Homo sapiens: one gene and its partners. The protein of the gene in region 3 purifies or fractionates together with the protein of the main gene of each other region. This does not show direct contact. Each region holds a gene or a part of one and is shown on either strand. Other genes may lie near its edges.

Region 1 (3,751 bases), on a different chromosome or scaffold from region 3:
CCTCCCAAGTAGCTGGGATTACAGGTGCCCACCACCACGCCTGGCTAATTTTTTGTATTTTTAGTAGAGACAGGGTTTTGCCACGTTGGCCAGGCTGGTGTGAAACTCCTGACCTCAGGCAGTCCACCTGCCTCGGCCTCCCAAAGTGCTAGGATTACAGGCATGAGCCACTGTGCCCAGCCTGTTTTTAAATAGTAAATATGAATATAAATTATATGCCTAAACTGAGATATGAGTGTTATAATTTTAACATTAATGTAAGATCAGACTGAAGAGTCAGTGCTAATGAACCACATTTTGGTTCTAATTGAGTCTAAGGCAAAAGTAAGAGCTGTTTGCTCATCATAAACCATATACTCAGGAATCTTGGGACTTCCTTTAAAAGTTAAGACAGGCGGAAATGGGGTCGGCTGACTGTACTCTACAGGTTTAGGTCAACTGTATCTGGCTCTCTTCCTTTAAAAAAATTGAAGGTTAATGTTTTTAGATAAAGATCTTTGAACTGACACATTTTTATCGTTATTATTATCGACACATTTTTATCGTTTTATCATTAACAAAAATCTAGGGAAAAAGTGTTCTTTATTTTTCTACAGATGAGTATCTTTATTTTATTCTTGATTTATAGTTTTAGTCTTCTCTGCCAGTGTATTTATCTTGAAAGAAGACTTTCTGCACATCTGCACATTTGAGAGATGCTCCTTTCAGAAGCACCCTTAGGAGTAATCACTGTGTTAGCCACTTGCAGGAAGGCCTTATTGCTTTAAGATGGCAGAGCCATCACATCCTGGCCTCCCGAAGTTGTCATCTTCACCCAAAACTGGGCCTCATGTGTTTCCTTTTCTGCTCTTCTGTTTTACAGGTGTGACTCAGCACTTCTGTAAAATGGATCAAAAATGTGTTAATGCAGGAAGACGGTAGATACAGGAAGGAAGAACCAATAATTAAGGGTTCTTTTATTTGTTTGGAACAAATTCATAGGCAAAGCCTTTTATTGGTAGCTTGAGGAAACTTAAAAGTAGTAGGAAAGGGTATAAAATCTCTTTCTGGGACACGCTAAACTCCTAGTTTTATAACACGTTGTCTGTGATATTTCTCTAGCCCTGAAGCACTTCTGAACATTACTTCAGAACATAAAACCTATGCTTTGTTTTTAAAGGTTTTCGTTGTTATGTAATAGCATCCAGCTGCTAATCCTTTTGAGCAGCACCTGTAATAATAATATGGCAGGAGGAGCCTTCCGTTCGCTGTGTGCAGGTGTCTGCGGGTTACCTCCTGCGGTGGAGCTGCATGAAAACAAGCACACCGTCTCTGTGAATAGCCACAGAAACATCTGAACGTCCTTTGCTTAGCATGCTTCTTTGCACTTGTGAGGGATTCTTTGGGGAGGAGGGTGATCATCTCTGATCCATGGATTTAGCTTCCCTGCCAGCGATGGTATGCGATTTTGACCCAGAGACATGGGGAGCTTGTGCCTTCGTGAAATTTGCGGCAGCGGCAGTGTGTGTTTTATCCATTAACAGAGGCAGCATAGTGGATGAGCTCAGGTTTGAGTTCCTGATCCATACTTAAGCTCTGTGTGCCTCAATTTCTCCATCTGTAAAATGGTGCCTACCTCATTGACTGTAGTGAAATTAAGAGTGTATATGCAGACCATGGAAGAGTTCCTTGCTTGTAGTAAGCACTATGTAAGCATTAACCTGCCATTACTGTTAATATTACTGTTAATGGGCCGGGCGCAGTGGCTCACTCCTGTAATTCCAGCACTTTGGGAGGCCGAGGCGGGCAGATCACGAGGTCAGGAGATCGAGACCATCCTGGCTAACACGGTGAAACCCCTTCTCTGCTAAAAATACAAAAAAATTAGCTGGATGTGGCGGCGTGTGCCTGTAGTCCTAGCTGCTGGGGAGACTGAGGCAGGAGAATGGCGTGAACCCAGGAGGCGGAGCTTGCAGTGAGTGGAGATCACACTACTGCACCCCAGCCTGGTTGACAGCAAGACTCTGTCTCAAAAAAAAAAAAAAAAAAAAATTACTGTTAATGTAACTATTGTTTAACTTTTCCCTGCTATGGGATCACATTCAATTGTAAAACTACTGTTTTTTGTTTTTATTTTTGTTTTTTTGAGATAGAGTTTTGCTCTTGTTGCACAGGCTGCGGTGCAATGGCGCAGTCTGGGCTCACTGCAAACTCCACCTCCTGGGTTCAAGCAATTCTCCTGCCTCAGCCTCCCAAGTAGCTGGGATTACAGGCACCTGCCACCACACCCAGCTAATTTTTGTATTTTTAGTAGAAACGGGATTTCACCGTGTTGGCCAAGCTGGTCTCAAACTCCTGACCTCAGGTGATCTGCCCATCTCAGCCTCCCAAAGTGTTGGGATTACAGTTGTAAGCCACTGCGTCTGGCCTGTAAAACTGAATTTGCTTACCTTTTGGCATTTTCTACCACTGCCTTAATAACTCACCCACCCAAGGATAAAGATAAGAAAATAAAAACATTTTCAGACTTTTCATGTTTTATTGGATATTTCAAACATATGCCAAAATAGAAAGGACATATTTACAGGAAAATGTTATTTTTATTTTATTTATTTATTTGAGACAGGGTTCCACTCACTTGCCCAGGCTGGAGTACTGTGGTGCAATCTTGGCTCACTGCAACCTCCACCTCCCCAGGTTCAAGCAATTCTGCCTCAGCCTCCCAAGTAGCTGGGACTACAGGCACGCGCCATCACACCCAGCTAATTTTTTGTATTTTTTAGTAGGGACAGGGTTTTGCCATGTTGGCCAGGCTGGTCTCGAACTCCTGGCCTTATGTGATCCACCCACCTTGGCCTACCAAAGTGCTGGGATTACAGGTGTGAGCCAAAAATGTTGATTTTTAAAGGCAAAAGAAATGTCATTTGAAATGTGAAAAGTAGAAGTTACACATCTATTGCCTTGAGGTAGCTTTTTAAAATGTTTGTCTTATGCATACACACTGTACATAGTTGTAATTCTAGAAAACATACCATTTTATGGCCTTTCTCTACCCAGCATTCAAGTATAAGCATTTTTTTCATTGAAAACAAATAGTTTTCAATGGTTTTGTACCATAATAATTGTTTCCCTTTTTAAAAAAATTGTAGATAAAACATTGGTGAAAATCTTACTGCAGATAGTTTGGGGGTTATATAGGAAGGTGATTTTTGTTTTGCTTTTTTGATTAGGAGTGTCAGGATTTCTTTCGTGGTACATGAGAACCTTACTATAAAGTGGCTCTTTAGGACCGTTCTGAAGTCAGCCTTATGAAGGTGAAATAGACTCTGATGAAATCACCCCAAGTCTGTGGCTTTTGTTGTAAGGCAGAGCTGCTCTGTGTCAATACCTGGTGTGTGAGAACAGGACGTGGTAGCTGTCATGGGACCCTCTAGCCCATCATTCTCTAGACCTGCACTGTCCAATACAGGATCTACTAGCCATGTGTGGTTATTTAAATTTAATTAGAATTAAATAAACTGAAAATTAATTTCCTTATTCACACTGGCCATATTTTGAGTGCTCAGTAGCCACTTATGGCTAGTGGCTATTGGTTTAGGTGAGCACATATAAAACATTTTTATCACTGCAGAAAGTTCGGTTGAGTAACACAGCTCTAGATTAGTCTCTAACTGCTCAGCTTCTTAACCTTACAGTGATAAGAGCCACCTCTTATAGGTAAGATTTTCTAGAGCAAAGTTGGGCAGACCTTGGGTACTTGTTTTTGTATATG
Region 2 (3,751 bases), on a different chromosome or scaffold from region 3:
CAGAGTTGAGATTCTTTATTTTCTTATCTTTTTTTTTTTTTTTTTTTTTTGAGATGGAGTTTTGCTCTTGTTGCCCAGACTGGAGTGCAGTGGCGCAATCTCGACTCACTGCAACCACCGCCTCCGGGGTTCAAGCGATTCTCCTGCCTCAGTCTCCTGAGTAGCTGGGATTACAGGCATCCACTACCATGCCTGGCTAATTTTTTTGTATTTTTAGTAGAGACAGAGTCTCACCATGTTGGCCAGGCTGGTCTCAAACTCCTGACCTCAAGTGATCCACCCACCTTGGCCTCCCAAAGTGCTGGGATTACAGGTGTGAGCCACTGCACCCGGCCGAGATTCTTTATCTTCTACATGAACCTGCTATCCTGTATAAACCGGCTTTCTCAGGTTAGAGTGATACAGAATTCTTCCAAACTCCAGTAAATCTTATTCTTCTTACTCATTTGTACATATGAATTTTAACTTTGTATATATATATTCTGTACATCTACTTTGAGCTTCTGCCATTTGCTAGGCAAGCATGGTGTTGAGTTTGGGAATACAGCCGTAAGCTACACAGACCTCTGTCCTTTTGGAAATGTTAGCCTAGTGGGAAAAATAGATATCAAATAATCACACAGTTTGTGAATGGTGATTAGTATTATGAATGAAGTATATAGGGTGCTGTTCAAAACATGTCATAGAGGAAACTGATCTAATATGGAGGGCAATAGGAAGAACTAGGGAAGGTTTCCCTGAAGAAGTGATGCTGAGCTGAAAGTTCAAGGATAAGTAAGAACTAACTAGAAAAAGTGACAGAAGAAGAGCATACAAGGCAAAGGGAACTGCTTTTGCAGAGGTCTTTAATAATACTCTATCTTGTCGTATTAGAGAGTAAATTAATTCAGAAGTAACACTTTGTCTTGCAAATCCTAGGTACTCAGTAAATGTTTGATTGAACTATCTATTTTGGAGGGTTGGACAAACTCTCCAGCCCTGTTTCTAGACTGCACTATGACCACCCCATCCCTCTTTGGTTTGCATTTAACATTACAACATCACCCTTTTCAACAAATTCATAAATTTCTGCAATGTTTTCTATACTTTTGAATTATGTTGATTGCATTTTTAAAAACATTTATTTTGAAATAATTATAGATTCACAGGAAGTTGCAAAGATAGTACAGACAGGTCCCTGTGTACACTTCACCCAGTTTCCCTCATAGGTTACATCTTATATAGTTACATTATAGTATCAAAACAAGGAAATTGATCTTGGTATAAGTATGTATCTGTTTCTGTATCATTTTATCACATGTTTATTTGTGTTACCATTACCACCACTGTCAAGATACAGAACTATTCCGTCACCGCAAAGATCTCCCTCATATTCCCTCTTTATAGTCCCACCTACCCAGCCTCTCCCCGCAACAGGTATCCCTAACCCCTGGCAACCATAATCTGTTCTCCATCTCTATAATGTTGTCATTTTCTATAATGTCATATGAATGGAATCATACAGTATGTGACTTTTTGAGGTTGTTTTTTGTCACTCAGTATAATGCTTTTGAGATCTATCCATATTGTTGTATGTAGCAGTAGTTCCTTTTTATTGTTAAGTAGTATTTCATGGTGTGGATGTACCACAGCTCGTTTAACCATTTACCTGTTGGGCGTTTTGGTTGCTTCTAGTTTTTGGCTATTATAACGTAGTATGAACAATCATGTACAGGTTTGTAAGGACATAACTTTTCATATCTCTGAGCTAAATGCCCAGGAGTGCAATTGCAGGATCAGATGGTAAATGCATGTTTAATTTTAAAATAAACTGACAAACTTTTCCAGAGTGGCTGTACTATTTTACATTTCTACCAGTAATATATGAGACATTGTTTCTCTGTATCCTCACTGCCATTTGATACTGTTATTATTTTTATTTTAGCTGTTTTAGTAGATGTGTAGTAATATCTCATCATGGTCTTAATTTGCATTTCCCTAATGATTAATAATGTTGAGAATATTTTTATTATTTATTTATCCTTTTTTTTTTTTTTTTTTTTGAGACGGAGTCTCCCTCTGTTGCCCAGGCAGGAGTGCAGTGGTGTGATCTCAGCTCACTGCAAGCTCCGCCTCCTGGGTTCACACCATTCTCCTGCTTCAGCCTCCTCAGTAGCTGGGACTACAGGTGCCCGCCACCACACCTGGCTAATTTTTTATATTTTTAGTAGAGACGGAGTTTCACTGTGTTAGCCAGGATAGTCTCAATCTCCTGACCTCATGATTCACCCTTCTCGGCCTCCCAGAGTGCTGGGATTACAGGCTTATTTATCCTTTTGAGACAGTCTTGCACTGTCACCTAGGCTGGAGTGCTATGGCGTGATCTCAGTTCACTGCAACCTCTGTCTCCTGGGCTCAAGCAATCCTTCTGCCTCAGCCTTCCAAGTAGCTGGGACTACAGGTGTGTGCCACCATGCCTGGCCATGTAGACGGGGTTTCACCATGTTTCTCAGGCTGGTCTGGAACTCCTAAGTGTAAGCCATACTCCCAGCTCAGCCTTTCAAAGTGTTGGGATTACAGGTGTGAGCCACTGCACCTGGCCTGAAAATCTTCGCTTATTTGCCATCCATGTTTTCTCTTTGGTGAAATATTTCTTCATGTCCTTTTGCCCACTTTCTAATTGGAGTGTTTGCTTCTTTACTGTGGTGTTTTAAAAGCTCTTTATAGGTTTTATTTTTATTTTATTTTATTTTTGATATGTGTTTCGCTCTTGTTGGCAAGGCTGGAGTGCAATGGCCTGGTCTCAACTTACTGCAGCCTCTGCCTCCCAGGTTCAAGCGATTCTCCTCTCTCAGCCTCCCAGGTAGCTGGGATTACAGATGCCCACCACCATGCCTGGCTAATTTTTGTATTTTTAGTAGAGATGGGGTTTCACCATGTTAGTCAGACTGGTCTCAAACTCCTGACCTCAGGCAGTCTGCCCATCTTGGCCTCCCAAAGTGCTGGGATTACAGGTGTGAGCCACCGCGCCGGCTTATCTTATTTTTTGAGAGAGTTTTGCTCTGTCATCCGGGCTGGAGTGCAGTGGTGTGATCTCAGCTCACTGCAACCTCTGCCTCCCAGGCTCAAGAGATTCTCGGGCCTCTGCCTCCCAAGTAGCTCAGATTACAGGCGTGTGCCACCGCGCCCAGCTAATTTTTTGTGTGTATTTTTAGTAAAGATGGGGTTTCGCCATGTTGGCCAGGCTGGTCTCAATCTCCTGGCCTCAGGTGATCTGCCCACCTTGGCCTCCCCAAGTGTTGAGATCATAGGCGTGAGCCACCGTGCCCAGCCAAAAGCTCTTTATATGTTTTAAATCTGAACCCTTTGTAAGATAGGTATTTGCAAATATTTTCTCCTAATCTGTAACTTGCCTTTTCATCCTCTTAACCACAATTTAAGATGAACCTTGATCTCATACCTTATACAAAAAGTAACTCAAAATGGATCATAGATTTTATCATAAAATAAAACTTTTAGAATAAAACAGGAGAAAATCTGCAGAACCTTAGGTTTGGTGAATAACTTTTAGACATAACACCAAATGCATTACTTATTAAAAAATTGATAAATTGGACTTTACCAAAATGAAAACTTACGCTCTGTGAAAGACCCTGTTAAAAGGATGGTTGCATTTAATTTTGGTCACTTTGTAATGGTAGAGAGGTAAGGTAACAAATTGTCTTTGAATCACTTTGTAGGCTATTATAAACAGCTGGGCACTTGTTGATTT
Region 3 (3,751 bases):
GACAGGCTCTTGTTCTGTTGCCCTGGCTAGAGTGCAGTGGCACAAACTCAGCTCATGGCAACCTTGATCCCCCCAGGCCCAAGGGATTCTCCCACTTTAGCCTCCTGACTAGCTGGGACCACAGGAGTGTGCTTCTACACCTGTCTAATTTAAAATTTTTTTTCGTAGAGACGGGTCTCTCTGTGTTGCCCTGGCTGGTCTCAAACTCCTGGGCTCAAACGATCTTTCCACCTTGGCCTCTCAAAGTGCTGGGATTATAGGCATAAGCCACCATGCCCGGCCCGTGTATTTTCATAGAGTTATTATGGCCACATTCTTACAGTTAGAGGAACTGCTTTTCTACGTACTATAGTAACATAAACCATAAAGGCCGTCCTTGAGTGGCTGATATTTGGAAACACAGCTTGGGGAATAACTGCCAACCATGCTGGCCTGACGGACTTGCCCAGCACTCCTGCCTCACCCTCACCCGCCGCACACCCGAGGACAGGCACAGAACCCTTGCTGTCTCATAGCTGCGTGCCCTGGTACATGCTGCTTCCTCACCTGGCCTGCTCTCCATCACCCTTACCTCCTCGACTACTTGAGAGGCTGGCCCATCACTTCTGAGTTAGCTCAGACGTCAGCGTCTTCAGCAGCTGTCTCTAGCCTGTGCCCACCTAGCTCCCTCTACTCTCACTTTGCACCCTTCTATTTCAGTTTTGGTCACTGGGCCTGCCTCCCCCACCAGACCAGAACCTCTCTTGCTGCAACACAACCTTCCCTCCTCATTATACCATTGAAAGAAAGTTGACTTTTCTTGTCCTATCTCCTCTCCCTACCACTGGGGCTTCCTTCTGTGTCCTTTCTACCCTGGGCCACTGCTCCTTTCCATTTCAGAGCAGCCTTTGACACTGAACACGTGGGCAAACCTCAGAATGTCAGTGACAGAGCTGATCTAGCCCAATGCCCATTCTCAAGAAGGGTACAGAGGAACATCAAAGAGAAAGAGAATCCTATGTCCAAGGTGACCACCAAGATCCTCCCAGTTTCACAGGCTCTCTTCACTCATTCCCTCATTCCCACCAGCATGAGTCCCGGCCTCAGCACCTTGACCCATCTGTAGCCACTGTCTCCCAACCTGACAGGCAACAAGTGACAGTGAAAAGGCACCCAGGGCCTTGGGGGCTGTGTTTCTTCCCTTTTTCCTTACAGCTAATGCTATTACGCTGGAATCTATAGTCAGAGAGTCCAGAAGCTATGCCACCCACCCCCCACCATCCCCTCTGAACAAACACCCTGCAACTGAATGTGACCCATTATGGCAAAATATAACAGGGTCTCCTATCTGAAATGACGTAATTATTATTATTGCTATTATTAACAGCTGACATTCCAAATAGGAGCCTGTTATGTGCCAGGCACCGTTCTAATGACTTTGCATACATTAATTCATTTACCTAATGCTCACGAAAACACTATGAGGTAGGTACAATGATTAGACCCACTTTGCAGATGAGAAAATGAGACACAAAGATTAAATCAGTTGCCCAAGGTCAGGCGTCTGGGAAGTGGAGGAGCTGGGAACTGAACTGAAGCCAGACAGTCTGGCTCTGGCCTCAGAGTCCTTCTCTACGTACTTCACATCACAGGTACTCCCAGGACCAGCTTCACAGGCCACTGTTTCACCAGGAAAGGAAAGAGCAAATATCTGTGTTGGAATGAGTGTACAGCAACCATTAATGATGATGAGAAACAGAAAATTAACCACAGAGCTCGTGAGAATGATCAACTGGGGAAGATGGCAGGACACTAGAATGTTGGCCAAGAGTGTCTGGGAACTAGAATCACAATTTATCAAAAATAAACATGGCTCAAAAAAGCCAGGACCTCACGAAGGTCAAACAATCCGGCCCTGTCAGACACCAAGAGCTACCAGGCTTATCAAAGCCAAGCTCAAATCAGCATCTTGAAATTGTATTTACTACACTTGATCTCAGCGAAAAGGCTGAGAAGCGATAAAATTCTATTTACAAAGCTGAGGAAGGAGATGGGTACGGGATTGCATTGTAGCAAGGAGTGGGAAACAATCTAGGGACCTCATCACTAGAGGAATCAAGTAAGTAAAATGTGGGGGATGCATCTATGGAAACCTGTGGAGCATTTAGAAACTGCATCCCAAATATACCCAGAGCAACATCGACAAGCTCCACACATGGCACTGAGGTGGAAAAAAATGAGGTCTAGGCAGAATCCATTTATGTAAATTAAAAGTATATGCATATAGGCTGGGAGCAGTGGCTCACACCTGTAATCTCAGCATTTTGGGAGGTCAAGGCAGGCAGACTGCTGAGCTCAGGAGTTTGAGACTAGCTTGGGCAACACGGCAAATTTACCTGGGCATGGTGGCACACGCCTGTGGTCCCAGCTCCTCAGAAGGCTGAGGTGGGACGGAGGACTGCTTGAGCCCGGGAGGTCAAGGCTGCAGTCAGCCATGATTATGCCACTGCATTCCAGCCTGAGCAAGAGTGAGACCCTGTCTCAAAAAAACAAAAAACAAAAAGAAGATATACACCAAACACATCAGAATGGTTTCCTGTGGTGAGAAGAGAGGGGAAGAATAGGGACAAAAGGGAATATAAATACAAAGGAGAAAAAGGCCCTGCATGGACCAGTTAAATGTATCATGAACTGAGGAGTGTGATTAACTCAGTAATTTTTTTTTTTTTTTTGTAGACGGTCTCGCTCTGTTGCCCAGGCTGGAATACAGTGGTGCTATCTTGGCTCACTGGCAACCTCCACCTCCCGGGTCCAAGCAATTCTTATGCCTTGGTCTCCCAAGTAGCTGGGATTACAGGTGCACCACCACACCTGGCTTTTTTTTTTTTTCATTTTTGTATTTTTAGTAAAGACGGGGTTTCGCCATTTTGGCCAGGCTGGTCTCGAACTCCTAGCCTCAAGTGATCCACCTGCCTTGGCCTCCCAAAGCACTGGGATTACAGGTGTGAGCCAAATCACCTGGCCAAATTTTTAAAAGTAAAATAAATGAACTGAGAAAACAGAACTGTTCGTGGGTATTCTATCCAAAAAATGCAGGAGGTTAATTCAGTCTGTCTAGAGCAAGCCACTCTGCCTGAATCAGTCAGTCATCTTCACCAGGCGCAAGGAATTGTGTTTGTCTTTGACAAACTTCATGATTAATAGATTGAAATTTCATGTCCACTGGTCCTAAGCCTTCCTCCCCAAGGTCTCACATATACAGAAATTATCCACCAGGATGACCCTCCGAAACACATAGCAGATCCTGTTACCTTTTGCCCAACACTACCATGGTTGACATATAAACCCTTTGCAATAATGTATTTGCTTCCTTTGCACAAGTTGTTCCCATTTTTAGAGTGCCCTCTGCACTTCTTTGTATAGAGTACGTAAGCTGTAGTTAAATTATCACCTCCCCTTGAGCCCTCAGTGAAATCTCCCTGCCTCCTTTTCTGCTTCATAACCTGGCAAGAGTGGCCACACCACACCCATCGAGTCCTCAGCTACTGCAGCACAGTAACAGCCTGTCCACGTCAGCCTCCTCCATTGGTCTGTGAGCTGCTCGATGGCTGGAATGTAGTCTTGTCCTTTCTCCCCCTCAGTGCCCAGACTAGGGCCTGGTCCATGGTAGATGCTCAGTAAACATTTGTTGATTGGGGCAGGGCGCGGTGGCTCACGCCTGTAATCCCAACACTTTGGGAGGCCGAGGCGAGTGGATCATGAGGTCAGGAGA

What was found.
Region 1: the proteins of RMND5B (region 3) and UBE2H purify together in Homo sapiens (affinity purification with mass spectrometry; 2 studies listed by BioGRID). This does not show direct contact.
Region 2: the proteins of RMND5B (region 3) and ARMC8 purify together in Homo sapiens (affinity purification with mass spectrometry; 4 studies listed by BioGRID and IntAct, with this or other methods). This does not show direct contact.

The regions. Positions count from the first base shown.
Region 1 is NC_000007.14:129,841,278-129,845,028, reverse strand, and holds part of UBE2H (ubiquitin-conjugating enzyme E2 H), read left to right. Parts: intron 1-3,751. UniProt on the Homo sapiens protein: Accepts ubiquitin from the E1 complex and catalyzes its covalent attachment to other proteins. E2 ubiquitin conjugating enzyme that transfers ubiquitin to MAEA, a core component of the CTLH E3 ubiquitin-protein ligase complex.
Region 2 is NC_000003.12:138,190,254-138,194,004, forward strand, and holds part of ARMC8 (armadillo repeat-containing protein 8), read left to right. Parts: intron 1-3,751. UniProt on the Homo sapiens protein: Component of the CTLH E3 ubiquitin-protein ligase complex that selectively accepts ubiquitin from UBE2H and mediates ubiquitination and subsequent proteasomal degradation of the transcription factor HBP1.
Region 3 is NC_000005.10:178,133,937-178,137,687, reverse strand, and holds part of RMND5B (E3 ubiquitin-protein transferase RMND5B), read right to left. Parts: intron 2,519-3,751; exon of another isoform or gene 2,476-2,518; coding exon of another isoform or gene 2,376-2,475; intron 1-2,375. UniProt on the Homo sapiens protein: Core component of the CTLH E3 ubiquitin-protein ligase complex that selectively accepts ubiquitin from UBE2H and mediates ubiquitination and subsequent proteasomal degradation of the transcription factor HBP1.